4 linked regions of the Homo sapiens genome follow. The protein of the gene in region 3 interacts with the protein of the main gene of each other region in a pairwise test. Each region holds a gene or a part of one and is shown on either strand. Other genes may lie near its edges. The genes, in order: TRIML2, POU2F1, ZFHX3 and CSTPP1.

The links.
Region 1: the proteins of ZFHX3 (region 3) and TRIML2 interact in binary tests that used the Homo sapiens proteins (3 or more experiments, as listed by UniProt).
Region 2: the proteins of ZFHX3 (region 3) and POU2F1 interact in binary tests that used the Homo sapiens proteins (3 or more experiments, as listed by UniProt).
Region 4: the proteins of ZFHX3 (region 3) and CSTPP1 interact in binary tests that used the Homo sapiens proteins (3 or more experiments, as listed by UniProt).

Annotation. Positions count from the first base shown.
Region 1 is NC_000004.12:188,092,082-188,099,669, forward strand, and holds part of TRIML2 (probable E3 ubiquitin-protein ligase TRIML2), read right to left. Parts: intron 7,095-7,588; coding exon 6,954-7,094; intron 6,199-6,953; coding exon of another isoform or gene 6,124-6,198; intron 5,266-6,123; coding exon 5,243-5,265; intron 5,081-5,242; coding exon 4,980-5,080; intron 942-4,979; coding exon of another isoform or gene 901-941; exon of another isoform or gene 709-900; intron 1-708.
Region 2 is NC_000001.11:167,370,412-167,377,999, forward strand, and holds part of POU2F1 (POU domain, class 2, transcription factor 1), read left to right. Parts: intron 1-1,505; coding exon 1,506-1,625; intron 1,626-3,696; coding exon 3,697-3,885; intron 3,886-5,617; coding exon 5,618-5,744; intron 5,745-7,588. UniProt on the Homo sapiens protein: Transcription factor that binds to the octamer motif (5'-ATTTGCAT-3') and activates the promoters of the genes for some small nuclear RNAs (snRNA) and of genes such as those for histone H2B and immunoglobulins.
Region 3 is NC_000016.10:72,954,024-72,961,611, forward strand, and holds part of ZFHX3 (zinc finger homeobox protein 3), read right to left. Parts: exon of another isoform or gene 6,172-7,588; 5' UTR 6,123-6,171; coding exon 3,404-6,122; intron 3,380-3,403; exon of another isoform or gene 3,224-3,379; coding exon of another isoform or gene 3,157-3,223; intron 1-3,156.
Region 4 is NC_000011.10:46,932,648-46,940,072, reverse strand, and holds the start of CSTPP1 (centriolar satellite-associated tubulin polyglutamylase complex regulator 1), read right to left. Parts: upstream 3,268-7,425; coding exon 3,222-3,267; intron 1-3,221. UniProt on the Homo sapiens protein: Regulator of the tubulin polyglutamylase complex (TPGC) that controls cytoskeletal organization, nuclear shape, and cilium disassembly by balancing microtubule and actin assembly.

The sequences.
Region 1 (7,588 bases), on a different chromosome or scaffold from region 3:
CAGGAAAAGGAACTGCTGAACTTCAATATGGACCTCATGGAGGAAAAAGTCCATAAGATATGGAAAGGGACACAGTCTACCTGAGCGGGAAGAATAAAACAAAGATGAATGAGCTAAGGAAGGTTTAGAAACACCTTCATCCAACGTGGCGCGGTGGCTCACGAGGTCAGGAGTTCAAGACCAGCCTGGTCAAGATGGTGAAACCCCATCTCTACTAAAAAAATACAAAAAGTAGCCGAGTGTGGTGGCAGGCGCCTGTAATCCCAGCTACTCATGAGGCTGAGGCAGAAAATTGCTTGAACCCAGGAGGCGGAGATTGCAGTGAGCCGAGATCACACCACTGCACTCCAGCCTGGGCGACAGAGCAAGACTCCATCTCAAAACAAACAAACAAACAAACAAACAAACAAAAAACAGCTTCACCCCAGAGACGGTCAAACTGTCCTGGTGCCAAGTTCCATCCAGATATCACTTGGGGCCCAACCCTGGTCTTCTAGATCTCCAAGCCTGGAGCGGCCACAGGAGTCGGCCAGCAGCAACTCATTCGTGGCCCTCCCGATGCCGTACTCTACACATCTTAAATATCCCCACAGGGTGACATAGAGGCCTGGAAATTGCTGACAACAGGCCCTGGACATCAGGCATTACATCAGATAATTTATCAGCGGAGGATGGAACACCTGTGTGGACCCTCCAGAAACTCACGCTGAGAACACGCAGGCTCAATGAATTCCTCACACCTGCATGAATACGTCTTCTTCCTATCTCTGACTGTTCCTCTCATCTCTTTCTGCCCAGCCTCTAACTATTGTGATCTTTCAGGGCTTGGTCCTGGGACTTCTTCTTTCAAGTAGTATATTCTCCTTCACTGCCCCCAGGTAACTGTGCATAGCTTCAGTTTTAAACATCTTCTCTGTGTTTGTGACTCGCTCCATAAACAGCTAAATACCAGTTGGAAAAAACACAGGAATTTCAAACATAACACACCCAAAATGGAACTTCAACGCCAGCCCTCTGCAGTCTCTACTTCTCAGTTCACAGCTCCCTCATTGCTTCAGTTGTCTAAGCCATAAACCTGGAAGGCCTTTATTTCCTACTTTCTGTAATGTGGAATCCAGCTTAATTTCTATTATTTGACTGAAGTAAATTTAATGAACTTAAATCTCTGAATTTGAAGCCCAATTCACATTATTAGGGTGGTCTCAACAGCTACACGTCTTGAATTTTTAAAAAATTGTCTGAGACTCTCAGTATTTCCAGGAGACTGGCAGAAACAAATGCAAATTATCTCTGGAAAAACGCACAGCTGTGGCTGGGCACGGTGGCTCACGCTTGTAATCCCAGCATTTTAGGAGGCCGAGGAGGACGGATCACTTGAGGCCAGGACTTTGAGACCAGCCTGGCGAAACCCCATCTCTACTAAAATTACAAAAATCAGCCAGGCCTGGTGGCGGCCTGTAATCCCAGCTACTCAGGAGGGTGAGGCAGGAGCATCGCTTGCATCTGGGAGGCAGAGGTTGCAGTGAGCCGAGATCATGCCACTGCCCTCCAGCCTGAGCAACAGAGCGAGGCTCATCTCAAAAACAAAAACAAAAAAGGTTGAAGAAACAACAGGAGTATCTCAAGAGAAAAAGAACTTGATAAATTCAACATTGATTCATAAAAATTCTTAGTAAACCAGAAATAAAGGGGGACATCCTCAATTTGATGAAAGGCAGCCATTAAAAAAAACTATAGCTAGGGCCAGGTGCGGTGGCTCACGCCTTTAATCCCAGCACTTTGGGAACCTGAGGCAGGCAGATCACGAGGTTGGGAGTTCGAGACCAGCCTGACCAACAGAGTGAAACCCCGTATCTACTAAAAATACAAAAATTAGCTGAGTGTGGTGGCACTCAGCTACTCGGGAGGTTGAGGCAGGAGAATCGTTTGAATCTGGGAGGAGGAGGTTGCGGTGAGCTGAGGCTTCGCCATTGCACTCCAGCCTGGGTGACAGAGCCAGACAGCATCTCAAAAAACAAAAACAAAAACAAAAACAAAAACAAAAACAAAAAACACAAAACAACAACAAAAAGCGCTATAGCTGTATCAGAATTTAGAGTGAAAAGACTTAATGTTTTCTTTCTTCCTAAGATCGAGAATAAGCAAGTGTCCACTCTCACCACTTCTGTTCAACACACTGCAGGTCTGAGCCAGTATAATAAGGCAAGAAAAATTCAGAAAAGGCTTACAGACTGGAAAGGCAGAAATAAAGCTATCTATACTCATATACTGCATGACTTTGTAGAAAATCCTGAAGGATCTATTTATAGAAATCCACTGTCTAATGAGTGAGTTTTGCATAGTTATAGGGTACAAATGTCAATATATATAAAACAATTCCATTTCTATATACTTGCAATGAACTAGAAATGAATGAAATGTCAATTAGAAATTGATATTTTAAAATACCGTTTACAGTGGCTGTAAAAAACATAAAATACTTAGGGATACATCTCCAAATACATATAACATTTTATGCTGAAAGTGACAAAACACTGATGAGAGAAATCGAAGACCTAAATAAATGGAGATATTTTGTATTCCTGGACTGAAAGCACCAAATATTGTCAAGATGTCAATTCTCCCCAAACTGATCAACGGATTCAATGTAATATGAATAAAAATCCCAGCGGTCCATTTTGAAGAAGCCAACAAGCTGATTTCAAAATTTATGTGGAAAAGCAAACAACCTACAGTAGCCAAAACTATTCTGAAAAAGAATAAATTTGGAGAATGCACAGTACCTGCTTTCAAGACTTCCTACAGAGTTATCAATCAAGCCAGTGTGCTATTGGCAAAGGGAAAGAGTCAACCATCAATAGACCTATTAGAGTCACAAATAGACGTGATCGCATATACCAGTTGATTTTCAACAAAGGGGCCAAGTAAATTGAATGGACAAAGGTAGTGTTTTTAACAAATGAAACTGGAACAAATGGATACATGTGAGTCAAAAAATAAAAATAGAAGGTGGGGGGAGGAGAGGGTTTGCACCATTCTGTGAACTGTATACAGATATTAACTCTCAGTGGTTCATAGGCCACAATGTAAAACCGAAAACCATAAAACTTTTGGAAGGAAATCTTTGTTGGCTTTGGCAAAATTTCTTAAATAAGACACAAAAAGCAGAAGTCATAAAAGAAAAAACTTGATAAATTGAACTTCATCAAAATGCAAAACCTCTACACTTCAAAAGACAGTATTAGGAAAATGAGAATACAAACCATGCTGGGAGGAAATATTTGCAAAATTTATCTGATAAATGAATGCTAAACAGAACATATAAAGAAATTATAAAACTCAAGAGACATACAACCCAATTTAGAAAAGGGGTTTGTACATGTATTTCACCAAAGTTGAGATAGAGGGAAAACAAACACATGAAAATATGCTCAGCATCATTAGTCATTCTGGAAATGCAAATTAAAATGACATACCACTACCCATCTATCGGGTCGGATGTAGTAAAACAAACTGACAATACCAAACCCTGGTGAGAATACAGAGTAACTGAATCTTTCGCACGTTATTGGTGGGAAGGCAAAATGGCACAGGCAATTTGGAAAACAAGTTTGGCAATCCCACCCTTAGACAGTCAATCAAGAACTATGAAGCTGTGCCCACACAAAAATCTGCTGCTAATATTTACAGCACAGAGCTGGAAACAACCCATGTCCGTAGAATTGCAAAAGGATAAGTAAATTATGGTATATTTATACAATGGAATATTATCAACAATAAAAAGGAACAAACTACTGATACACGAAGCAGCCTGGACGTTCTATATGTCAACTGCAGTATGCTGTCAGCCTCGAAAGGCCACACACTGTAGGATTCCATCGATAGGACATTCTGGGAAAGGCAAAGCTATAAGGACAGGAGATATAAACCCTTTGTTATACATGCTGAATTTCTTCCCCAGAAGTTTTAAATTTTTAAGCAGTGGAATCTGCCTGCAATCATGTTTCATGGCTGGGGAACTGGTAAAGAATCTGCAGCCAGGCGTGGTGGCTCACGCCTGTAATCCCAGCACTTTGGGAGCCTGAGGCGCGTGGATCACCTGAGATCAGGAGTTCAAGACCAGCCTGACCAACATGGTAAGACCTCGTCTCTACCATAAATACAAAAAATTAGCCAGGCGTGGTGGCTCACGCCTATAATCCCAGCACTTTGGGAGCCCAAGGCGCGTGGATCACCTGAGATCAGGAGTTCAAGACCATCCTGACCAACATGGTAAGACCTCATCTCTACTATACAAAAAATTAGCCAGGTGTGGTGGTGCATGCCTGTAATCCCAGCTACTTGGGAGGCCGAGGCAGGAGAATCACTTGAACCCAGGAGGGGGAGGTTGCAGTGAGCCAAGATCGCACCACTGCACTCCAGCCTGGGCAAAGTGAAACTCTGTCTCAAAAAAAAAAAAAAAAAAAAAAAAAAAAAAGATTTTGCATGGGAAGAGCTTTCATATGAGATCATACAGTTATTTTTTTGATCCTTATCTAATATGTATAACATATTAAGCTCTCCAGTCTCCTAAAATTTTTATTTATTTATTTTAAGACAGAGTCTCATTCTGTTGCCCAGGCTGGGGTGCAGTGGTGTGATCTCAGCTCACTGCAATCTCCACCTCCTGGGTTCAAGCAATTCTCCCACCTCAGCCACTCAAGTAGCAGGGACTACAGGCACACGCCACCACAACTGGCTAATTTTCGTATTTTTTGTAGAGATGGGATTTCACCATGTTGGTTAGGCTGGTCTCGAACTCCTGGCCTCAAGCAAACCGCCCGCCTTGGCCTCCCAAAGTGCTGGGATTACAGGAGTGACCCACTGTGCTGGCCTAAAATTGTTAAACTACTGGAATTTGTTTTCATTTATGGCAGGATGGTCACCTGATTCTCAAATGCAGAACAGTGCCCTGTGAGTATTCACATGTGTCAACTTACTCTGGAGTACTCTGAACATGCTGCTGAGTCCTCTTATGTGGCATAAACTCAGGTCTGTGATATGAGCGGGCTCCAGATGCTCAAGCAGCAGTGACTTGCTCCTGAAGAGAAAGGACAGCCTCAGTCATCTGCACAGACCACAGGCCCCTTAGTCTACTGGATGGATCCCATTACATCCTACCAGCAAATGCAATCTCCCTATCTCAATCAACATCTTACTGGACTCTGATTCTCACCCAATTGTATCCAAAATGAAAACTCACCTTTCTAAAGAGTATTTTGCATTCTAAGGGAAAGAAAAGAGACCAGGTTACTACTGGGTTTTTGAGCTGTTTTTGCAATCTGTGCCCAGGAAAATATCCTCTTACAATGAACTCAATTTCCATGTCATTTCTTCAACCTCATAATGCTAGTTATCAGATGAACAAATTCTAACATGGAAACAGAAAAAGTCAGAAAAATGCATGAAATCATTTTGTCGTAGTCCCAAGGGAAAGGTTTTCTATCCCTCACCCCAGGCATCTTACTCAGAGCCATCATTTCTCAGTCTTCAGACGGGAGCATCTATCTGCTTTCCATGCAGGGGGTGGCCAGAGTTCAGCAGGTGAAGGGGCCACTGGCTGGGAGGGCAGTGGGAGCCAGGCAGAGCCACACCTGCCTGCATGCTCAAGAACTGAGCTGCTTCCTAAGGATTTACCTACAGACGCTTTCCAGATGAGCGCATTCATTGCAATTATAAGCCCAGGAGAGGGATATGGACAGTCTTAAAAAGATAGTAAGGCCAGGCGCGGTGGCTCATGCCTGTAATCCCAGCACTTTGGGAGGCCAAGGTGGGCGTATAACCTGAGGTCGGGAGTTTAAGACCAGACTGACCAACATGGTGAAACCCCGTTTCTACTAAAAATACAAAAATTAGCTGGACATGGTGGTGGGCGCCTGTAATCCCAACTACTCAGGAGGCTGAGGCAGGAGAATCGCTTGAACTGGGGAGGCGGAGGTTACAGTGAGCCGAAATTGCGCCACTGCTCCAGCCTGGGAGATAGAGCGAGACTCCGTCTCGGGGAAAAAAAAAAAAAAAAAGGTAACCCACTTTCTGAAAGGCAACGTATGTTACTATACAAAATTCAAAATATGCAATACTTACCATAGACTGAGTAGCTTCTGCACAGCAGAAATTCATTTCTCGCAGTTCTGGAGGCCGAATTTCAAGATCAAGGCACTGGCAGATTCAGTGTCCGGTGAGGGCTCCATCCCTCCTAGGTAGCCTCCATCTCCAGCCTCACAAGCTGAAGGGGTGAGGTCTTCCTCGGCCTCTTTTATAAGAGCCCTAATCCCATTCACAGGGGCTCTGCCCCCAGGCCCCACTCACTACCCAAAGGCCCCACCTCCCAATACCATCGCCTTGGGGGAGAGGATTTCAACATATATATTTTGGAGGGACACAAACATTCAGATCATAGCAGATAATCTCACCCTTGTTTCAAGATTATCACAGATGACTATACATTTATTAATTTTTTGCCAGAAAGTCTGTGAATGTTAGCAACCACACATGTATATGTGTGTGTATATATACTTATTATCCAAAGATCAAACAAAAAGCAGTCTGCATCTTTCTTTTTCACTTAATGAGTGCTTGAAATACTGTTAGTGCCTATAGAGCTGTTTTATTCTTTATGATCACAGAATATTTCATTGCATGGAGGTATTAACCACATTGTGTCACATCTCAACCCTAACTTACTGCTGATAATTTTAAGGTGAGAATTCATCTCATGAAGCAGCTCCACACTATCCCACAAAGCTATGACCATTCCTAAAGCTTTTGGCAGCTGAAAGAAAGTCATGTAGCCTTCTTTTGTGGTTGAAGATCATTGGATATTGTGTTCTGACAGCAACCCCTAATGAGTACTGTCCACTTCTCATTTCTCAAATACTGGAATGAATTTTATTTTCTTTTTCCCAGCATCTTACCTTGAGCAATGCCAAGGTGCCTTCCCCACACTTTTTCTCAAGCTCCACGATGAGCTTTAGGAGGCTGCGGACCTGTTCAGAAGCCCTGGCTTCACTCTCCTTCAGTTTCTCCATGTTCTCTCTCCCCACACGGCCCAGTCTCTGCAGAAGCATTTCTTCGTTACTATTCAACAACCTCAAGTTCAGGAACAAGAGTTCGGTAACTTCTCCTATAGATTAATTCAACCATGTTTTTAAAAACCTGCTTTTCGGTTGGGCGCAGTGGCTCACGCCTGTAATCCCAGCACTTTGGGTGGCCAAGGCCGGCGGATCATGAGGTCAGGGTTTGAGACCAGCCTGGCCAACATGGTGAAACCCAGTCTCCACTAGAAGTACAAAAATTAGCCAGGCGTGGTGGCGGGTGCCTGTAATCCCAGCTACTCAGGAGGCTGAGGCAGGAGAATCGCTTGAACCTGGGAGGCAGACGTTGCAGTGAGCCAAGATCGTGCCACTGCACTCCAGCCTGAATGACAGAGCAAGACTCCAAATCAAAAAAAAAAACCAAAACCAAAACCAAAAAAAAAAAAACCCTGCTTTTCTGCCTGCTACCCCAGGAACAGACATAATTAGGCAAGGCCATGATATTCTTCTGCTGA
Region 2 (7,588 bases), on a different chromosome or scaffold from region 3:
CCAAAAATGGACAGGAAAAGTCTACTTTCAAAGTTGTATGTGTAAGTTCAGTAAAAATGTTTCTAAGTTATACTGCTATAACACATACCTAAACACACAGCCTGAAAGTTCTCTTAAATGCCAGTTTGTTTCCAAAAGACTTGTTATTTATCATTTTTGATGTCTTAGGGAGACCTTATAGGGAAGAGGAAAGAACACTGGACTGAGACACAAGGGTCTTAGGTTTGCATTCTCATTCTGCCACTGACTAGCTGTGTGACCTTTGGCAAGTCACATAACCTCCTTGGGTTCAGTTTTTCTCATCTGTACTTAAGTGGGGACATTTATAAGATTGCCAGGGTTCCTCTCCATCCTAAAATGTTAGGCTTCTAATAATTGTAATTAAACCTGTTTGTAGATGTTGGTGGATAGACAATCAAAATCTTAAAACTTAAATCTGGCCACTTTCCTTCTTTGAACCATATGGCACAACATGCAAAGTTCAAGTGTTAGACATTGCCCTCTTAATATTTCTATCAACCTGCTGGTTCCTTTCATTATAGTGTTTAGGTAACTAGCAGTCAAGAGGGAAAGACAGTATTATGGAAGATTGATTTCAGTGTTGCTAATGACTAAAGACCTTGGGTTGAGCATTTCATGAAACCCAGTTGAATATGGACCTAGTAACACGTAGGAACAAGGAGAGAAAAGAAAAAGAGATAATGTGACCTTACTTTCTGAGGGAGAGGAGGCGGAAAATTGCCTTGGTTGCCATGGTAAACTTTCATCCCTTAGAGAGATGTTGGCAAACAGGCTGTATCTCCAGTGCAGAATGTTTACAGTCCTGCACTGTAATTATCTCTCAATGACTGGCAGAATTAATCAGAGCATTTATGTTAATTAGCCTTGCTGCAGTCCCCAAAACAGGTGGTGAGAAATATGCAAATCTATGCAGAATTTTAATGCTTTGCATAACCAGTTTTAATTACCGTAAAATTTTCTCTTCGTGCCCCTCTCTCTTGACTGCAGCATTTTCTCTCTGAGCTTGTGTGTTAGTTGATGGGAGTTGCTAGATTTACCGTTCTGTAAAATATTAGGTGGAAAGTTCTGTGGATCAAGTGATCATTCTCTGAGATGGTATATGGAGAAGTTTCAGACTGACCACCAGGTGTATGTTAAAATATTGGTTTGGAAGGTCTAATGTAGAGGTGAATTGAAAATATATTCTTCCCTTTACCCCCTATTTCTAGAGTTGAGGAATTGGGGGCTATGAAAAAAATCTATAAATTTGTGGGGGATGACTTTATTTTTAAAAATTGTAATAGCAGCTTTGCTGGCATTAGAATTAACAAGTTTAAAAACTTGGTATGTGAAACTAGGAAAATACAAATAAAAGAAAGGAGGTAAACCAGAACTCATGACTGAATAAGCTCATGTTTTAAATGATTCCTAAAAGATGGGGTTTTAAGTACATTTCTTTTAATCAACCATTTGCAATCTTTTATTTCCTACCCACCCCACCTCAGTCTAAATCTAATGAAGAATCGGGGGATTCGCAGCAGCCAAGCCAGCCTTCCCAGCAGCCTTCAGTGCAGGCAGCCATTCCCCAGACCCAGCTTATGCTAGCTGGAGGACAGATAACTGGGGTAAGTGTTCACTGAGAGAATTATAACAAACTTTTTCTGTGTCAGAACTGCCATTGGCCAATAGCTGATTAGAATTGTTCACCATAGCTGGTAGTAACATGGCTATGCCTGGCACTATTGTGTCTTTAAGGAACTTCCTACACTGTAGGTAGTAAGTTGCTCTGAAAAAGGAATTATCTTTGTCGTAAGTTTTCAGGATATCTTTTATTAGAATTGTGGATGCTCTGGATAAATTAAAAACCTTATTAAACCCCTGTTTCAGGTGTTGCTTCATCATGCAATGGAGTAATTATCATATGGTTGAGATCATTACACTGAAAATGGCAGTTATCCATTTGGCATTAAGACATCACTGCAGGGTAGAAGTTAAAGAATGGATTAGTACCTGCAAAAGAAAAACATTTTTCTTTAAGTTACTGTGTAATGATCTAAAATAAAGCATGTGGCTTCATATCCTAGCTCTGCAACTTACCGTATGGCCTAATTACTTCATTTCCCTCTACCTGTTTTCCTTCTGTTAAATGGAGATACTAATAATACCTATCTCACATTACTGTTGTAAAGATTGGAGATAATACATGTAAAACTTATAGAACGGTGCTTGGCATGTAGCATTCAACAAATATTGTTTATTTTTGTACTTGATCTTAGCCAAAAGGCTGAGACGTTCTGTCATTTATTTTTTATGGTTAATAAATTGGCCTGTTTGGCTATATTAAGCTTTTAAGTTTTCAGCTGTCTTTTCTCTAAGGCACCATTCAAAATATTTTTCCAATGTTGAAAATTTGTGTATTAAATTATCTTTGTGGGGGTTGGTTTAGGGCAATGGTAAGGAATAGTTTTTATTCAATTCACATCACATTAACTCCCAAGAATTTCCTAGGGTTTTTTGTTTTCTTTCTTTCTTTCTTTCTTTTTTTCCCAGTTAAGTGTGTTTTGTCAGTGGACAACTGTTTTAAGAACTGTTGCAAAATTGTTCACAAAATCCCATGAGTAGAGATGTATGTATATATATATTATGTAAAAATTAAAAATATATCTATACTTTATATACACACATATCCCTTGAAGGGTATTGAGTTTTTGAATGGTTTGGTTTTGAGCCTTATGTTTCTAATGCACAAATTGTGTTTGATTCTTTTAGAGGAGGTTGTGGCACTAAGTGACTGTACATATACTTCAGAAAATTATGGTTCCATCTTGTTTGATCAATCAGAACTTGTCACCAAAAGAAAAGTAGAACACATTTACTACTTTAAGTGTGTTTGAAATAAGTTGCATTATGAAAACAACTTTAAATATGCTCTAAATACATTTCCTACTTTACTATTTGGGTCTTGTTTTTGGTGACTAGTGTCTACAATAGTAAGAGGGAGTTGGGATTCTAGGTTCCTTTGGCTGGAGCTTCTGTTAAACCTGGGCATTAGGGTTCATTTGCATGTAAAGAGAACGGCTATCACCACCTGTTTCATAGAGATAATGTGTTGGAAAGGAGATGTAAAGTTGCAGAGACTCAGTGCTTTCAATAACAGAAAAGATTGTGTTAGGGAGGGGCCTGTAGGGAGACTTGGAAAAGAAACAAATGGAGCTCATATTCTTTAGTCATATCTTTGGACTTAATGGAAATGATGGAATATGGCAGGGATTCATGCTAATGGGAAGCAGCTGGGCCTTATCAGTTCTTTCCTTGGTTATATCCAGCATCCTTGTTCCTCATTCATCTGACTAATCACTTGCTGTTTGGTTGTGTGTAAATGTATTTTCATATCTTGTCAGTGGTGATTCTTTTTTTTTTTTCTTGCTTACTAGTTAATTACTTTTTTGCCCAAACCCTAGGGCCCTGGACAAGCTTGAATGATTAAGTCCATAGTGGGGACCACCATTTTAATTTAAATGTTCTGCTAGTAATGGTAGTTTGATCACTGATGAACATTTTAGCTGTCTGCTAAGCAAGTGAAGTTGGGTAGCTGGGGACTGATATCATTTGAGTTACCTATTTTAAAGCAGTTGGCTTGCATTAGGAGACTTTCTCCTTCAACACTTTCCCATAATGTGTTCTGGTTTTGTTTAGCTTACTTTGACGCCTGCCCAGCAACAGTTACTACTCCAGCAGGCACAGGCACAGGCACAGCTGCTGGCTGCTGCAGTGCAGCAGCACTCCGCCAGCCAGCAGCACAGTGCTGCTGGAGCCACCATCTCCGCCTCTGCTGCCACGCCCATGACGCAGATCCCCCTGTCTCAGCCCATACAGATCGCACAGGTGAGTGAGGAACTCCAATAGCTGGGGCAGCAAGTGAGGAATAAAGTGGCAGGTTTTATTTAATGTTAGATTAACTTTTTGATTGTTAGTGTGGGGCCTTAACTGCCTGAGGAGCTCTAGATCAGTGAGGTAAGCGGTACCCTTCCTTACCACTGAATTAGAAATAATGTTTGTTTGCTTATTGTAGTTGATATTGTAAACATATAGCTGATTATTTGAATAACTGACTTTATATTAAGTGACAATTCTTGAATAATTAGCTGGCATATTTTTGAAGCAGGGGATTACTGTATTTATTTTAATTAGCTAATTACAGCAGACATGGATTTTTTTTCATGTGCTCTGCGGTGAATGTTGCCACCCATGTGTGAGACAGTGAGTCATCTCTGCTATGGAGTGATTAACATTATTGCATTAGAATGTTGTTTGGTTTCAATTTTCACATTTTAGGGCAAAGTATCTAGAGATAATAAAAATTTATTTAAGAAGCGCCAGGCGCGGTGGCTCACGCCTGTAATCCCAGCACTTTGGGAGGCCGAGGCGGGCGGATCACTAGGTCAGGAGTTCGAGACCATACTGGCTAACACGGTGAAACCCCATCTCTACTAAAAATACAAAAAATTAGCCAGGTGTGGTGGCAGGTGCCTGTAATCCCAGCTACGCGGGAGGTTGAGGCAGGAGAATAGCGTGAACCCAGGAGGTGGAGCTTGCAGTGAGCCGAGATCGCGCCACTAAAAAAAAAAAAAATTAAGAAGCATACACAATAGTACCAAGGAGGAAAATAAATAAAATCTTTAATCTCAAGAAGAGGAAAAAGGTATAAGTAGATATATCAGTAAAATATATGAAGAGTTATTATGAGTCTAATTGTTAGACAGCTGTCTTTATCCGTCTCAGAAAAGACTCAGAAATGGACTTAACTTGTAGCAAGAGTTTGACTAACCATTTAAAAAGAACTAATTAACTGTAAGAGTAGAGAATAAATATCAGACTAGTCTTTATACAATCTTTATCAAGATAATGTTTTGATTTTGGCCACTTTCTCATCACCAAATAAATGTTTTTAGTGCCTAAGCTGTGAGACCCTATATTAACATTAGTCTAAATAAGATAACGTTCATGAAAACACTTTGAAAATTATAAAACAGTAGGCCAATGTAAGGTGCTATTGTTGTTAGGGATTAAATTTTTATATGGATAGCTATTTTTGGTTTTAAAAAATTGAATACTTTAGAACATGTGGAAAAGGGCAAAAAAATTGAATACTGATTTTTCAGTTGAGTTAGATAAGCTGTTGTCAAATGTCATAAGTCATTATAGGCCCTTTATTGATGGAAATTCAGACATAACACGATCAATTTTTATTTAAGAGAAAGATCAATCAAATATTTAAAAACTGTTTTCTCACTTGATTTTTAAAACCCATATTGGTCTTTACATGATAAAAAACAGAAGTATATTTGTTCTGAGGGAATTTTAAAGAAACATTGAAAATTAGGCTTATCATAACAATATATGTCAGTCCACAAAAATAGTCAGTTGCAGAGGCTCCAGGTTGCTTCACGTGCTTTGTCAAGCACACACAGAGCATACCCTGTTTGGAATATGAAAGCATGCGAAGTATTTACTCTTCTTTATTTGGATGTGACAGAAGTCATCAGCTGGAAGCCTTATAATTAAGCGAACTTTTATTTCAGAATCTCCAATCCATGTTTTAATTCCAATTTTTCAGGATCTTCAACAACTGCAACAGCTTCAACAGCAGAATCTCAACCTGCAACAGTTTGTGTTGGTGCATCCAACCACCAATTTGCAGCCAGCGCAGTTTATCATCTCACAGACGCCCCAGGGCCAGCAGGGTGAGCTCCTCCTTAGAGCTTATTAGTGGTATACCAAGGCTGTTCGCTGAATGTTACACATGCATGAACTACTATCATTTTGGCCCTGAAACTATTAGACCAATGTTTTTATTAAATTTTATTTGATTATAAACTTTCGTTTAAAAAAAGTTTTGTTTTGTTTTTTGTCATAAATACCACATTATTGAAGGTTGCCCTGAACTGCCATTCATCTGCTTAATCACTAAGGAAGAACCAAGAGTTTGGCCAAAAGTCTAAGTGAAATTATTCAACATGCCAAACATAAATTGGATAAGTTGCTGCTAGTGTTTTGATTGTTTTTCATGGAAGTGTATTCAAAGAATATAGACTGAGTGTTGAAAGTATGTGCTTCTAACCATTGTTTTTTTAATTTAAGGAGGGAAGACTGCTATAATAGAAACTACAAATTTCGTGAGTTATAAAAAACATCTTTGAGTCATTTGAGTGGTAAATGTTATATAATTAATATATCAAACAACCACTCGTCTGTAAGGTCAGTTAATGTAATCAGGGTGAAGAATGTCAGAGTATCAAGGCTTCAACCCAAGGAACATTAGTGCATCACTAATGATTCTTTATTATTTCTGAGTGGGTTTTTTTGCCTTTTTTCTTCTTGATCATTCATTCCAAAATCTTTTGTCATGAAATAATTATTCTAGCATATATTCAAGATTCAGAGATAAGTAATTCAGTATTTACTTGCAGAGGGCTCACAATTTAGTGGCAGGGAAACAGACCTAAATTATGTTAGATTTGATATGCACACAATGCTATGGGAACCAAGCAAAGAGACCCCTGTAACTTTGTGCTCAGATAAGTCTTCACAGTGAATTTGGGAAAATACATTCATAGGCTTACAAAAGAGAGAATGTCAGTCTTGGAAAATGAACAGCATTTGCAAACCTTAGAAACATGGAAGAAAAATCAATAAGCTGTGTTTGAGAACTATAAGTAGTGCCTTACAACTGCAGAATAAGTTTGCATATGCAGGTAATAGTGAAATTTGAACCCAGAAAGATTAGCAGAGACCAGATCATTAAAGAACCTTAGATTAAGTTTCCAGGAGTTTGACCTTAAATCCTATAGCTTAGTGCTTCCTAAGATTTGATTTATTTAAGAGTCATTAATGGCCAGGCGTGGTGGCTGACGCCTGTAATCCCAGCACTTTGTGAGGCCGAGGCAGGCAGATCACGAGGTCAGGAGATCGAGACCATCCTAGCTAACACAGTGAAACCCCATCTCTACTAAAAATACAAAAAAAATAGCCAGGCGTGGTGGCAGGCGCCTGTAGTCCCAGCTACTCAGGAGGCTGAGGCAGGAGAATGGTGTGAACTGGGAAGGCAGAGCTTGCAGTGAGCCAAGATTGAACCACTGCACTCCAGCCTGGGTGACAGAGTGAGACTCCGTCTAAAAAATAAAAAAATTAAAAAATCACTTGAGGAATTAGAAAAGTTTCCTGAGCCCTAACCCCAACCTCCCAATTACTTTTTTTCTTATTTTTAAACTATTAGGTTCAGGGTTACACTCAGGTTTGTTATGTAGATAAACTACATGTCATAGGGATTTGATGTACAGATAATTTCATCACCCAGGTAATAGGCATAATACCTGATAGGTAGTTTTTTCGATTCTCATCCTCCTCCCACCCTCTACCCTCAAGTAGGCCCTGGTGGCTGTTGTTCCCTTCTTTGTGTACATATGTACTGAAAGTTTTATGGCTGTATAGTATTCCGTTGTGTATATGCACCACATTTTTTTTAATCCAGTCTAGTGTTGATGGATATTTAGGTTGATTCCATGTCTTTGCTATTGTGAATAGTGCT
Region 3 (7,588 bases):
ACAAAGTGGGGGAATCTCACCCAGTTCACAAACAGGAGCAGGGCCCCTATAAATAAGAAACTGGGGCTGGGCATAGTGGCTCACACCTGTCATCCCAGCACTTTGGGAGGCCAAGGTGGGCAGATCACCTGAGGTCAGGAGTTCAAGACCAGCCTGGCCAATGTGGTGAAATCCTGTCTCTACTGAACACACAAAAATTAGCTAGGCATGGTGGCGCATGCCTGTAATCCCAGCTACTCGGAAGGCAGAGGCAGAAGAATTGCTTGAACCCGGGAGGCAGGGGCTGCAGTGAGCCGAGACTGCGCTATTGCACTCCAGCCTGGGCGACAAGAGTGAAACTCCATCTCAAAAAAAAGAAATGAAAAAAAGAACTTGGCAGGTCCTTAGTCTTGAGCCACACTGGATACGTGGTCTTGGAGCAGGTCCCCATCTCTGGGTATGCACCTAACTCTAACACTGGAACTGACACCTTGACACGTGAGCCCACCCATCAGCACATCCTCAGGAAGGTGCATGGATTCAAAGGCACACTCTGGAATGAAAGGGAGACGAAGGGAGCTGCTAAACCTTGTGCAGGTGTCCAGGGGCTGGCTGGCTACTTGGGAAACACACAGCCACCCCGACAAGCAACCCCTTTCTTGGTGCTATGCTAAACTTCAGAGTCGAAAGGAAGGTTTGGGAGGATGTTCACAAGGCCTCAAATCTAATGTGCTGTCTACAAAGAGCAGCAGATCCGACTGTACTAGGCGAAGGAGCCCCAAGCCTTTCCTCAAAGGCTTCTGAAAAGAAGCAACCCCACAATCAGTGTCTGTTTGATGATACTAAAGAGGGCTCTGCCAAGGGAAGTATGAAAACAATCACCTTGTAAAGAGGAGTGTATTTCACAAAAACATTTTTCTCCCTGCAGAACTCAGTCACATCTAATAACACCTACAGCCATCTTATAAATGGACCATGGGGAAAAAAAACCAGTACAGCCACAGCTAGAACTGAAAGTTATGGCTGTTTTTATTTGCATAAGTTGGTTTCTCCTACTGAGGTCATACAACTCAAATTCCAAGTCTTTTGGACACTTCCTATGGCCCCCACACCCACTCGAGCTTCTGGCATAAAGGATTTGTGGCTCTCACACCTTCTCAGCAGTTTTCGCGGCCCAAGGAAGGCACAGGTTTCCAGGGACTCCCCGTGGCCGACAAGTAGTGACACTGGAAATTCAAGAGCCCTTTGTGACTGAGCTGGATAAATCCTTTGGGAGGAAGAGCTCCAGTCTAAGAAATATGGTGTGGCCCTTCCATGTGTGTCTACAACACAGGGCTTCATTCTTCTGCTCCTTCTGAATCTGCCGCAATGCCCAGGACAGTGCATGATGCCCCAAAGACTCACAGACACTTGGTGTGAAAGCGAAATATTTCTCTACTTCTCAATACAAGCCTTAGTTACCTGTTCTTAAGGTAATTAAAAAGCCTCACTTTAGGCTGGGCACAGTGGCTCATGCCTGTAATCCCAGCACTTTGGGAGGCCAAGGCGGGCAGATCACCTGAGGTCAAGGGTTTGAGACCAGCCTGGCCAAGATGGTGAAGCCCCATCTCTACTAAAAACACAAAATTAGCCAGGCATGGTGGCGGGTGCCTGTAATCCCAGCTACTTGGGAGGCTCTGGCAGGAGAATCGCTTGAACACAGGAGGTGGATGTTGCAGTGAGCCGAGACGGCACCACTCACTCCAGCCTGGGTGACAGAGCGAGACTCTGTCTCAAAAAAAAAAAAAAAAAAACCCTCACTTTGACCCAACATGAACCTACCCACGTTCCCACGTTCTGTCTTCATTCCACCTCCGTTATGTTTGATTTGCTCCAAGATCTACCTCCCGAGATTCTATGACTCCTTCTAATTCCTACTGGCTTAAAGAAAACCTTAGAGTACTCACTCCCATCTCCTGGTGTGCATGGTTCACCCTGGTGACAAATAAGACGACCAGTGCTTGTGCATCCACAATTAGCCAGTTGGTTTCAAATACCCTCAAATCATTTGGTAATAAAGGATCAACAGGCAAATATTTCAAAATGGAAAATGAGATTAAAGTACTAAGGATTAAAAACTGAATACATAGCAAGAAAAACCAATGGAATGCTTTGAAATATAACTCATCGGCAACAATTAGCACTCAAACACCACACAAATAAACACTTGCCAACTGCTGAGGCCTGGCCCTGCAGTCATCTAAGCCATCCTGGAAAAAAAGTCCTCACTGACACTCTGTTGCCAAGAACAACCTATTCCCATGTCAATAATGGCATATTGCTTAATTCAGGCCATTGTCACTGGTCCCACGAAGTCCATTAGCAGCGTCACGGGATGGGACGCAGGCAGGATCCTGTTTGAAGCATACCGGGTGGAGGCACGAGTGGCCCAACTATCAGAAGGTTCTCATGAAACCCATCTGTAGATTGTTTTGGCAGCAGCAGCTATCCTCAAAGTGGCTGTGGTTCGTTCTACGTAAAAACTCAAAGTTTTTAGCACCCAAATCCTACACTCTTGGTCCTATTCTAGATATTGTAAGCCAATTGGTAAGACTGGGAGCCTGAACAGAGCCAAATCAGCTTCTCTAAAGCAGAGGTCATTCTTCCTGGCAGCGAAGGCTCCGCTAACCAGGATCTAACTGCTATTAAAAGTTAACTTTCCTTGATGGACAATTTTTACAACTTACTCATTTTTCATCTCTCACACCCCTCACAACAGTGCCACTGGGGAATTTAATTCCCAATTAATTTCCAACTATTCTAATCACCAAGTACTCATCAAAAATAAGCAAAAAAAAAAACATCTCTTTCATTGAGGTCCTCATAAATATACAGAGAACTTTGAGAAGTCTATCTGGATGGTTCCCTAGCTCGGCACAGAATCAGCCTTTAGTTATCTGAATAACGTACACTGTGGTTCCGAATTCCTATTATTAAGATGATTGTCTCTACTTAAATCATTGAGGTAACTGTCCCTAGTCCTCTTATTGAAATGATTGCCTCAGCTACAGTTTCCTGTAAGTTTCAGTAAATATTCGATGAAACCCCAAAGTTTTAGGTGATTATAGTGATTTTTCAAATTGAAAGAAGAGACAGAGAAAGAGAGAATGGGAACAGAAAACTAGAGGAAACACTCACATTTTAATCCTGGCCCCACGTAGCCAGAGTACAAGCATATCTCTTTTGAATGCATAAACTCTTCCATATGTACACACACAGTTCAAGGGATTCTTGAGAATACTTGATTGTAAGACACTCCAGTTTACACAAAAACCACTCGAGAAGACCAGAGTCAACTGAATCCACAGGACTATCTCACCCTATTCACCATTCTCCCTGGTTAAACTCCTATCATGAAAACAGACAAACACGTAGTCATCCTCACCTAGAGCAGGCGTCATGGCGGCCATGGGCCCGGCGGGATCCAGCTGGAATCCGCTCATCATGAACTGGGCGTCCGAGGCAGCACTGTCCATCTTCAGGTTGGGCAGGTTCATGTTCTGGGCCAGGTAGTATTGGTAGAGCTCGGCCTCGGCGGGTGAGGGCAGGCTGCCGAGGCCCAGGTGGCGGTTGTGTTGGATCTGGGTCATGTTCTGTTGCAGTAACATCATGTTATGCATGTGCTTCTCACTGGTCATGTGAATGCGGAGGTTCCTGGCCACGTTGGTCTCATAATCACACACCTCGCACCGCCAGGTGGGTTTGGTTTTTGGTTTGGTCGGCGAGGGGGCCCCGCAGGAGCTACTGATATTGGCTGCCGCCGCCGCCGCAGCCACCGCCGCCGCCGCCGCCCCGGCAGTGTGGCTGAAGACCTGCTCCCCCCCTCCATTCTGCAGGTTCTGCATGTTGTTGAGATGCTTGTCAGACTGCATATGAATACTGAGGTTGCCTTTGGTAGTTGTGGAGTAGTTACACACCTCGCAGCGGAAAGGCTTGTAACCACACGTGTAGCTCTCGCCTCGTGCCAGCCGGGGGTGGGGCTGCCCGCTTTTGCAGTAGACACAGGAGCCCCCCGGCTCCGGGTGCTTCTCCTTCATGTGTGCCTCCAGGGTCTGCTGGTACTTATAGTGCCAGTTGCACTTGGGGCACTTGAGTGTCTTACACGAGTTACGAGAATGCATCATGGTCATGTGGCCGCCCAGCGAGCGGGAGGAGCCCAGGACCGTGTCGCATTTGGGGCACTCCACGCCACTCCCCGAGGGGCACTCCCCAACCCCAAGCTCGCAGAGGGAGCCAGCGTGCTGGTGATGGGGAACGAAGCCCCCATCGTCACCCTCTGTGCTTTCATTTGGTTCTGGTGCTGTGGCATTGTCTTTATTGGCACTTTCGTCAGCGAAGTCCAGCCTCCTGCCGCCCTCTGCCACATTGGCCCTGACGCCCTCACTGTTAAAGCTTAAACGATTCCTCCTGTTCGCACCATCAAAGACAACAAAGGAAGAAGCAGAATTAGAACTAGTAGAAGCTGTGCCCCTCGACAGGGTCTGGAGCACGTTAGGCATTAAGGGGGAGTTAGAAATGCTTTGGTTTGAGAGAGCAAGGTCCTTTTTGCTGCTACTACCTGCTGCGGCCCCAGGCTCCTCATGGGGCCTGTCCTCCAGTTCCTCATCCAACTCGCTTGGAAAGAGTCCTTTGCAACCCTCGTCTTCCTCCTCCTCTTCTTCCTCCTCCTCTTCTTCCTCCTCCTCCTCCGCCTCTTCCTCCTCCTCTTCCTCCTCCGCCTCCTCTTCGGCTGGCTCTACCTTCTCAGAGAAGCAATCCCCGTCGCCCACTTCCTGCTTCTCTCCTTCTGCCGCCCCAGAGTCCTTGCCCTCTGAGGATTTGGTAGGACTGGAAGCCAGAGGCCCCAGGGGGACTGAGGTAATGGGGGTCTTCAGTACCGAGCTGGTGAGCCCGCCAAGGTTCAACAGGGTGCTGGGGGTCAAGAGACCAGCCTGGGGCTGCTCGGGGCCAGCGGCGGAGCCCGCTGGGAGAGCTTCCTCCCCTTCCATTCGAATGCCACTAAATTTACCATAAAAACTGTGTCCGGGGCCTATGAGGTTAGCTGTGGAAACTAAAGGGTGTTGAAAGTTTTTGTTTTTTGGTTCCAGAAAACTTACAAGGGGTTCCTTGTCTTTGCCGATCCCTTGGATGATAGCGGAGATGTTCTTATTGCTAAGAATTTTCCGCTCGTCTTCGCTCAGGGTCATTCGATGGTCATGCACCGCGTGGGTCACAAACGAACGGACGTACCCAAAGGAGAGTTTGCACAAGAAACACATCAGGATGGGCTTCCTCTTGCCATAGAGCACAAAGCCATCGAATTTGGACAGGTCCACATTGTTGGGAACATCTTTGGATACGCAGGAGCTTTTGGCAGAACCGTCGCTGTTCAGGTAATCCTTGTTGCTTTTGTGTCGCACGTCAAACACGCGGAAGCTGTGCAGGACGGGGCTGAGCCCCGCCAGGGCTGAGGTATTCGGGAAAGCCTGGTCTGGGCCCTCAAACCATTTCCCGAAGGATGAGGCTATGTGGAAAGTGTTGATGATCTGCGGGTACACGGGTGCAGCACACGAAGGGTCCCCTTGCTTGCCCCCCGCGCCAGGGAGAGAGTTCAGGAAAAGCGAGGGGAGAGGCCCACTGCCACTGCCACTCCCACAGGCGCCCCCGCCCTGGGTCAGCTGGCTCAGGCTCTCCACAATGTACGCGGAGCCGTCCGGCTGGTAGACGATCTCCCCGGCCAGGTTCTCCACGTCACTCTCCTCGTCCCCCTCCTCACCGGTGTCGCTGGCGCTCTCCTCTCTCAGGGGTGGCGGGGGGCGCGCGCTGGGGCAGTGGTGCTCCATGTAGGTCTGGAGGCTGGCAAAGGAGGCCGAACATTCGTTGCAGGTGACCTCCTTGCTGGCGGGCTCGGAGGGGGGCCCGGCCGACGCGGTGCTCTCCGCGAGGCGCTCATTGAAGGGGGCCCTCAGGCTGTCCAAGGGCCCGTGGCTCTCGCCTGTGGACTGCTCCATGCTACTGGGTTTGTCAGGGAGGTGGGTGCTGTTGAGTTCAGTCCATTGCTGGTGCTGAGGGATACCGCACCCATTGTCCTTCCCCGAGACGACGGGCGAGTCACAGCCTTCCATGGTAAGGCCTGCGTGGAGCTTTCATTGCACCCAGTACGGAGGCTCGGACCTGAAGGGCAGAGGCAAGGGGGGAGGAGGGAGAGAGGGGAAAGAGAGAGAGAAAGGAAAGAGGTTAGGAGGGCCGAGGCTGAGGTCCTACCGCACGGAGCGCTCTAAGAGGCTTCTGTCCACAACACAGAGACACAGGGCGGAGGGCGGGCCTGGGGACACTGCCCCACACGGTCCAGCACACAGGGGTGGCATGGCCGGGTCAACAGCCTGAGCGAGGGATATGGGGAAAGAAGGCCAGGAACAGCCCTCTTCGGCTTCGAATTGTCACCGCTCTGCCCCTGAAGACTAGCGGGAATTTCCATTCTTTGCCAGCATAGCTTCGATGGGCCACAGTGGAGAACGGACGCGTCATCTCTCCAGCCCTCTACGAGGTCACAGCCACAGCCCTACCACTTATGGACAGCTCACACGAAGTCAGCCCCGACTCCGCGCACTGTCTGTGGGTCAGGGGAACACAGGGGAGGGCTGAGAAGAGGGAGGTTCAATGTCCCTGGAAAAAGGACGGTAAAGTGGGATAACGCTCATGGATTTAGAACAATTGCAGCCGTCGCTTTTACTGACCATGGTTCTAGTTTGAGAAGTTCAAAGAAGGCGGGTGAGGACCCTGAGGTTCACAGGGCAGGTGTACAGGACTAGACACACTCCGAAAAGTCCTCTCCAGATCTGGGAGGCGTCAGTCCCATTTTACAAGCAGTAAAACAGAGGGGCTTCAATCTAAAAACTGGCTCAGTGCTAATCTCACCACCATGAAACAGAAGAAAAGATGGGTCCCCAGATTCCTGTCTCCTCCACCCATACCAGTCAAGCTCCCTGGCCTGTGACTCTAGCTGACTTCAGACTAAAACTACGTAGGTGCAAAACGTGAGCTTGGTATTTCCAGCAGGAATGGACCAGACTCTGGATCTGCCAACACCCCCTCCAGCAGCTTCTATCTGGCCCTGGCTGGAGGGAGTGCGTTCCCCACGTGCCTGGTGGTTTTTGCTATCAAGGATCTGAGCAGCAAGCCGAGACGGCAGCTGGGCTCGGCGAGCCCCAGCTCCACACCTGCCTCTTAGTTATTAGTCGCTACCCAACCAGCTGTCGTTCAGCCCTGGGGCTTTTCCATTTCCGACTCCAAAGTGCCACTGAGCTGAATGTGCCCTCTGAGACCTCATGTCCCTGGGGAGGGAGGCATCGGATCACGGCCGCTCTGCTCCTGCAGTAATATCATCGCAGGGGCGATCATTCCGTCTGGCCCTGCTCCTACAGGCAGCTCAGCACCTCGCAGAGCCCTGATCCTTTGCCCGTAGGTCCCCAGCCACCATTCCCCTGCTGCTCCTCCTGGAGAACATGTGGCTGCTCCTCCACCCACCATCTCATTCACACTCAGCCGGTGAAGGTTTCGGCCAGGTTTGATCTCACTTCCCTCCCTGACA
Region 4 (7,425 bases), on a different chromosome or scaffold from region 3:
TGGAGAAACCCTATCTCTACCCAAAATACAAAAACTTAGCCAGGTGTGGTGGCTCGTGCCTGCAGTTCCAGCTACTTGAGAGGCTGGGGCAGGAGAATGGCTTGAACCCAGGAAGTGGAGGTTGCAGTGAGCCGAGATGGTGCCACTGCACTCCAGCCTGGGTGACAGAGTGAGACTCTGTCTCAAGAAAGAAAGAAAAGAAAAAACAAAAGAAACGGAAATTACTTCAAGATGTATTAAATGAAAAAGTATGCACTGTATACTCCTTTATGTATATAATAAACTCTGGAAAGATACACAGGAAAACAATAATAGTGGTTACTTTTGGGAGGCTGAGGATGGATGGAAACTGGGCAGATGGAGGCAAAGGGGTAGGCTTTTCACTAAAAACATCTACCTATCTATCTATCTATCTATCTATCTATCTATCTATCTATCTATGCATTTTAGAGGCAGGGTCTCACTCTATCATCCAGTCTGGTCTTGAACTCCTGACCTCAAGCAATCCTCCTACGTCAGCCTCCCAAAGTATTGGGATTACAGGCATGAGCCACCATGCCAGGCCTAAAAAATACTTTGAATCAAGTTTCCATATTACCAACCTTAAAAAATATTTTAAAATTAATTTTTAAAATAAGTTAAACAAAATGTAAACCAGAATTGTTTTTCATTTAAAAAGATGTTGGCTGGGCGCGGTGGCTCACGCCTGTAATCCAAGCAGTTTGGGAGGCCGAGGTGGGTGGATCACCTGAGGTCAGGAGTTTGAGACCAGCCTGACCAACATGGAGAAACCCATCTCTACTAAAAATACAAAATTAGCCAGGCGTGGTGGCGCATGCCTGTAATCCCAGGTACTAGGGAGGCTGAGGCAGGAGAATCACTTGAACCCAGGAGGCGGAGGTTGGGGTGAGCCCAGATCGCATCATTGCACTCCAGCCTAGGCAACAAGAGTGAAACTCCATCTCAAAAAAAAAAAAAAAAAAAAAAAAAGATGTAAGCCAGGTGCAGTGACTCACACCTGTAATCTCAGTACTTTGGAAGGCCACAGTAAGAGGCTTGCTTGAGCCCTGGAGTTCAAGACCAACCTGGACAACATAGTGAGACTCTTTCTCTACAAAAAATTAAAAAATTAACCAGGGATGGTGGCATGTGCCTGTAGTCCCAGCTACTTGGAAGGCTGAGGTAGCAGGATCACTTGAGCCCGGAGGTTGAGGCTGCAGTGAGCCGTGATAGTGCCACTGCACTCCAGCCTGAGTGACAGTGCCAGACATTGTCTCAAAAAAAAAAAAAAAGAAGAAGAAAAAAAAAAAAGATGTGCATGGTACATCCATACAATGGAATATTATTCAGAAATAAAAAGAAATGAGTTATCATGCCACAGAAAGACATGGAGGAAACTTAAATGCTTACTGCTAAGTTAAAGAAGCCCATCTGAAAAATTTACACACTGTATGACTCCAACTACATGATATTCTGGAAAAGGCAAAACTTTAGAGACCATAAGATCAGTGGTTGGCAAGGGCTGCAGGGGGAGGGAGAAGGATCAATAGGTGGAGCACAGGGGATTTTTCAGGACAGTGAAACTATTCTGTATGATAATGGAATGGTGAATACATGACATGCATTTATCAAAACCCACAGAACTGAACAACACAAAGAACCCTAATGTAAACTATGGACTTTAGTTAATAATATGTATCTATAATAATATATCTATATAATAATAATAATATATAATATATTATTATATATTATAAATATATATGTTTATCCATTGTAACAAATGTACCACACTAATGCAAGATGTAAATAATAGCGGAAACTGTGAGTGAGGGAGACCCAAGGTATATGGGAACTCGCCGTACTATCTGCTCAATTTTCTGTAAACTTAAAACTTCTCGCCATGTGCAGTGGCTCACGCCTGTAATCCCAACACTTTGGGAGGCCGAGGTGGGCGGATCACCTGAGGTCAGGAGTTTGAGACCAGCCTGACCAACATGGTGAAACCCCGTCTCTACTAAAAATATAAAATTAACCTGGCGTGGTGGCGCATGCCTGTAATCTCAACTACTCGGGAGGCTGAGGCAGGAGAATCGCTTGAATCCGGGAGGCAGAGGTTGCAGTGTACTCCAGCCTGGGCAACAGGAGAGAAACTCTGTCTCAAAAAACAAAACAAAACAAAACAAAACGTCTTTAAAAAAATAAAAGTCTATGAATTATTTAAAATGTGTATTGTGGCCGGGCGCGGTGGCTCACGCCTGTAATCCAAGCACTTTTGGAGGCTGAGGCGGGCAGATCACGAGGTCAGGAGATCGAGACCATCCTGGTTAACACGGTGAAACCCCGTCTCTATTAAGTATACAAAAAAGTAGCCGGGCGAGGTGGCGGGCGCCTGTAGTCCCAGCTACCCGGGAGGCGGAGCTTGCAGTGAGCCAAGATCGCGCCACTGCACTCCAGCCCGGGCGACAGAGCTAGACTCCGTCTCAAAAATAAAATAAAATAAAATGTGTATTGTGTGCATATGTGTGTGTGTGTACATATCTATGCGTGTGTGTGCCTTTTTTCATTCATTAAATGCCTTATACACTAAAGATGCTCAACAAAGTACTACATATACAGTCTTAGCTCAAGAGCCAAGTCAATATCTCAAGTTCTGTTGGAGTGGGCAAATCCGGTTCTGATCCTAGCGCTACCATTTTCTAGCTGTGTGGCCTAACTTAACGCAAGTTACCTCTTCAGCCCCAGTTTCTCCACCTGCAAAACTGGAAGAAAACACGGTAATTCCTCCTAGGGCTGTTGAGAAATTCAAATGAAGAATGATGCATGAAAAATGCTTAGCACAGTGCCTAATGAAAAAGAAAAGCTCGAAATGTTCGCTGACTGATTTGGCACTTGAGGTTCCAAGGTTATTCTTACTCCACTACCAGCATATCAATAATACCCCAACAGGGCCCCAAATCCTCAACGCCAACCTGACCCATTTGAACACAATCCACATTGCCTGAGTTCCAGCCCCTACACTTCAAACATTCTTTACTTCCCAGGTGCTTTTTTCCTTCCTGCTCGGCCTTACAGGCTCAGGCCCTGGAACCCCCGCCTCTCCGCCCCTCCCCATACCACCCGGACCCGATCCCACTCAGACCCCGCCCCCGCCTCCTCCCAGACCCTGGCCTAATTCGTCTGCACGTCTTTCCCTCCCCAAAGTTAAAGGGGGTTCCTACCCAGATACTCGTAGTCCGGTAGGGCTAGGCGCTCCGGACTCAGCATCCTTTGACCGGGGTGGCTTCAAAGCTCCAGCTCTCCGGCTTCCGGAACCCAGGTTGCCGTCTCTCTCCGTTGCCATGGCACCCACGCGGCGGAAGGGGGACGGGAGCTGGAGGAGGTGTCACACAAACAGTCTCCGTGTCGCAAAGTGGAGCTGGCCACTCAAGTTCCGGGGGCAGTCGCTTCACGATGGTCCAGGTTTCTTTGGACTCCCATTCTTGAAGACTTGGTTTTAGAGGAATCTGAGATGAAGAATTCTTTTGAATCCGTTATGTTTCCCAGTGTCGAAGAATTACTGTCAGCCGCCCATATACGCAGTTTCTGAATTTCATAACTATCCCTGCTTTTATACACTGTTTATCCTAACTCAGTAATAGCCCCCGCCCTTTGGCCCCCATAAACACTTAGTATCCCATTAGCTATTTTTATCTCTTTGGTATTTACTATCTTAAATTGCTACAAAGTGCTTACGTATGCATATACCCTGGATGCTTCTAGAGGTCAGAGATGTGTCTTTTCTGCCTATGACGGCTGGACACACAAAAGGTACTCATTAAGTCCTCTGAACTAATTGCCATTTCTTCTCAATTCTCACTCAGTCGCCCAGGCTGGAGTGCAGTAGCGTGATCTCGGTTCATTGCAACCAGCGCCTCCCGGGTTCAAGCGATTCTCCTGCCTCAGCCTCCCAAGTAGCTGGGATTACAGGCGCCCGCCACTCCGCCTGGCTAATTTTTTGTGTTTTTAGTAGAGATGGGGTTTCACCATGTTGGCGAGGCTGGTCTGCAAACTCTTGACCTCAGGTGATCCGCCGACCTCAGGTGATCCGCCTGCCTCAGGCCTCCCAAAGTGCTGGGATTACAGGCGTGAGCCACCGCGCCCAGGCTCAATTCCTTTTTATCTTTGGTTCTTCTTTCTATTCCTAGCCCTTACTATTTGGTACCTTTCCCAGGTGTCTTTCCTTTTTCCTACCAAGACATTGCTCTTCTTGAGGGAGAGGGGCTGCAGAAACGAGGACACCAGTTAGATTTTTTTCCCTATATGCCCAATTGCTCACTTCTTCTTTAAGAGAATATTCACTGGTTTTCAAGTTCCTAAATATTTCTTTTCGCCCCTCTCCACTCCTGACAACAGGTCAGAGATCTGTAGCACTAGACACAGTTCAGACATAGCAGAAAAAGCCACTCTGTCCTCACTTTTTTAGTGCCCTCCCCCTCCAACAAGGTGAGGTTTGTGAAAAAGAGACAAAGAAAACAAAATCAAGCTATCAAAGGAATGACTGGGAAACCAGTAGACCACCTACACTGGGAGGAAAAGGAAAGAGGAGGTTCTTCTCTTTGTGTTCCGAGTGGCCTATTCTTAGCGTCCTCCAGTAAGGAGCCTCAAACCTCCTAATTCTTGCTTTCCCTTAAAATTGTATATGTGTCTCAATTCTAGGCTCCTGTGAGTCACTCTAAGTTTGGATGTGGTGAGGTTAAAAGGACAGAGCCAAAGTAGGAGCAGGGCTTAGTGTCTTGAGGCAAATTTACTAATTTGGTATTTGGTGTGAAGTCCAGCAAATCTGATTTTTTTTTAATTGCCTTCTTATCTGCTTCCCCCATCTAGCTTGAGGTTATGGGAGGTTCATATGTTCCATAACTGTGGCTTTTTACTATTTTATTAATAAGGTAATACCATAGTAATTATTAAGTGATAATTTTACTTTATTCCCAAGCAACTTGTAGCTATTTGCAAATAATCTTATTTGTCCTCATAAAAACTTTCTGCTGAGGTGGGCGGATCACGAGTTCAGGAGTTCGAGACCAGCCTGGCCAATATGGAGAAACCCCATCTCTACTAAAAATACAAAAATTAGCCAGGCGTGGTGGCGCACGCCTGTAATCCCAGCTACTCAGGAGGCTGAGGCAGAAGAATCACTTGAACCGGGGAGGCAGAAGTTGCAGTGAGCCAAGATCGCACCACTGCACTCCAGCCTGGGCGACACAGCGAGACTCCGTCTCAAAAAAAAAAAAAAAAAAAAAAAAAAAACCTTTCTAAGGCACTTTTCCATTTTCTAACTAGGGAAACTGAGGCACAAGTCACAACAGTGACTTGTCTAGTGACTTGTCTAGCATCATGCAGCCACATAGTGGTAGAGCTACAACTGGATCTCAGCTATCCCAACATCCAGGCCAGTGGTCTGACCACTAAACCACACAGTCTCTTTTTTTAGGGTTTGTTGACCTGGCTTTTATTTATTTATTTTTCCTTTTGCTCTGCCCTGCTAGCAACTGGAAGCTCCCAGATAGAAGAAGATAATGTTGAGTCCAGGCTGAACATTTGACATCGTCTTATTTGTGGAGCATTATCCTGGGACTTGGCGGGTGCTGGCTGCTGGGGTCTGTGTGGTGGAGCTGGGAACCAGCCCCAAGAATATAGCTTTGTTTGGGCATTAACCCATTTGTGGTTATAATAATGATAAGTTTCAGCACCAGTGGCGCCCGACTGTTAATGACTCAAAGAAGGCTAAATAAGAACAAGATGTCATCTCTGGAGCAATTTGTAGGTTTTTCCTACAGTTCCATCCCTTCCATAAAAATCCGAAGGACCCCTGTATTCAAAGTCAGTCTTCCACTCTGAATGTCCTGAACAGTCTATTGAGGAGGAGGACTTAGAAAAGTAGGAGGTTGCTAGAGTAAGGCTTCACAAAAATTTGAAGTTTCACCGAAATAACAGGTGGCCTTACTGGTAGTGGAATTACTGACTGTTTACATTTTTCTTCTTTATATTTTTCTATAGTCTTAAACTTTCTATAATAGGCATGTATTATAACCTGAAAACAAATAATAAATGAGTGGCCTGAAAATCTTTAAAATTTTTTAAGCAGATGTGATGACCTTCCAGACAGTGTTTGTTTTTCCCAAAAAGAAGCCACTGCTAGATTTCTCTTCTGTCACAGATTACATGATAATAGATTTTTGAAACACATTGGTTATTGGTGAAATTTTTCAATGAAACATACACTACATCAGTCTTAAGAAGAGTAGAAATATATAAGAGTTGTTAAAATTAAGTGTATTTTTTGTGACTTGAATGTGAAAGAAAGAAAAAAAATGTCAGCCTTTGATTTAAATTGACTTTTCAGGTTCTTAACTTATCATAATATATTTCTTAAAAATTTACCAAAAAAAAAAATCACCGAGGTAAATCGGTAAGTCAGAAGACAACTCCATAATCCTGAAAAGAGGCAAGTGATAAGATATTGATGATAAATAGAGCATCGGATGTTAAAGGCAGTACTACAGCATGACGACTGTAAACATCAAATTCAGAACAATAAGAAAAAAACAAGAGAGAGAATATATTGAGATGGTTTTTGTTTTTGTTTGTTTGTTTTTTGAGACAGAGGCTCACTCCATCATCCAGAAAGGAGTGGAATGGTGCAATCTCTGCTTACTGCAACCTCTGTGTCCCAGGTTCAAGCCATTCTCCTGCCTCAGCCTCCCGAGTAGTTGGGACTACAGGTGTGTGCCACCACACCCGGCTAATTTTTGTATTTTCAGTAGAGACAGGGTTTCGCCATGTTGACCAGGCTGGTCTCGAACCCCTGACTTCAAGTGATCCACCCGCCTCAGTCTCCCAAAGTGCTGGGATTACAGGTGTGAGCCACTGCACCTTTTGTTTTTTGTTTGTTTGTTTGTTTTGTTTTTTAGTATATATAAGGTCTCCCTTTGTCACCCAGGCTGGAGTGCAATGGCACAATCACAACTCACTGTAGCCTGGAATTCTTGGGCTCAAGTAATCCTCCCACCTCAGCCTCCTGAGTAGCTGGGATCACTGGTGCATGCCACCACATCCAGATAATATTTTTAATTTTGTAGAGACAAGGTCTTGCTAGGTAGCCCAGGCTGGTTTCGAATTCCTGAGCTCAAGCAATCCTCCTGCCTCAGTCTCCCAAAGTGCATGAGCCACTGCACCCAGCTGAGACATCAATTTATCAGATTATAATTTCTGATTTTATAATGAGAAAATTAATAGACATCTCTGGCTCTGCAGAAGACCTATTAAGAGATTGATAGGGAAGAAAATCCTCCCTATAATTGAAGACTATAGAAAAGCAAACGGTGAATACACTAAACAGTTTTAAACTTCAAGGAAGCAATAAGGAAAGAATAAATGCAGGCT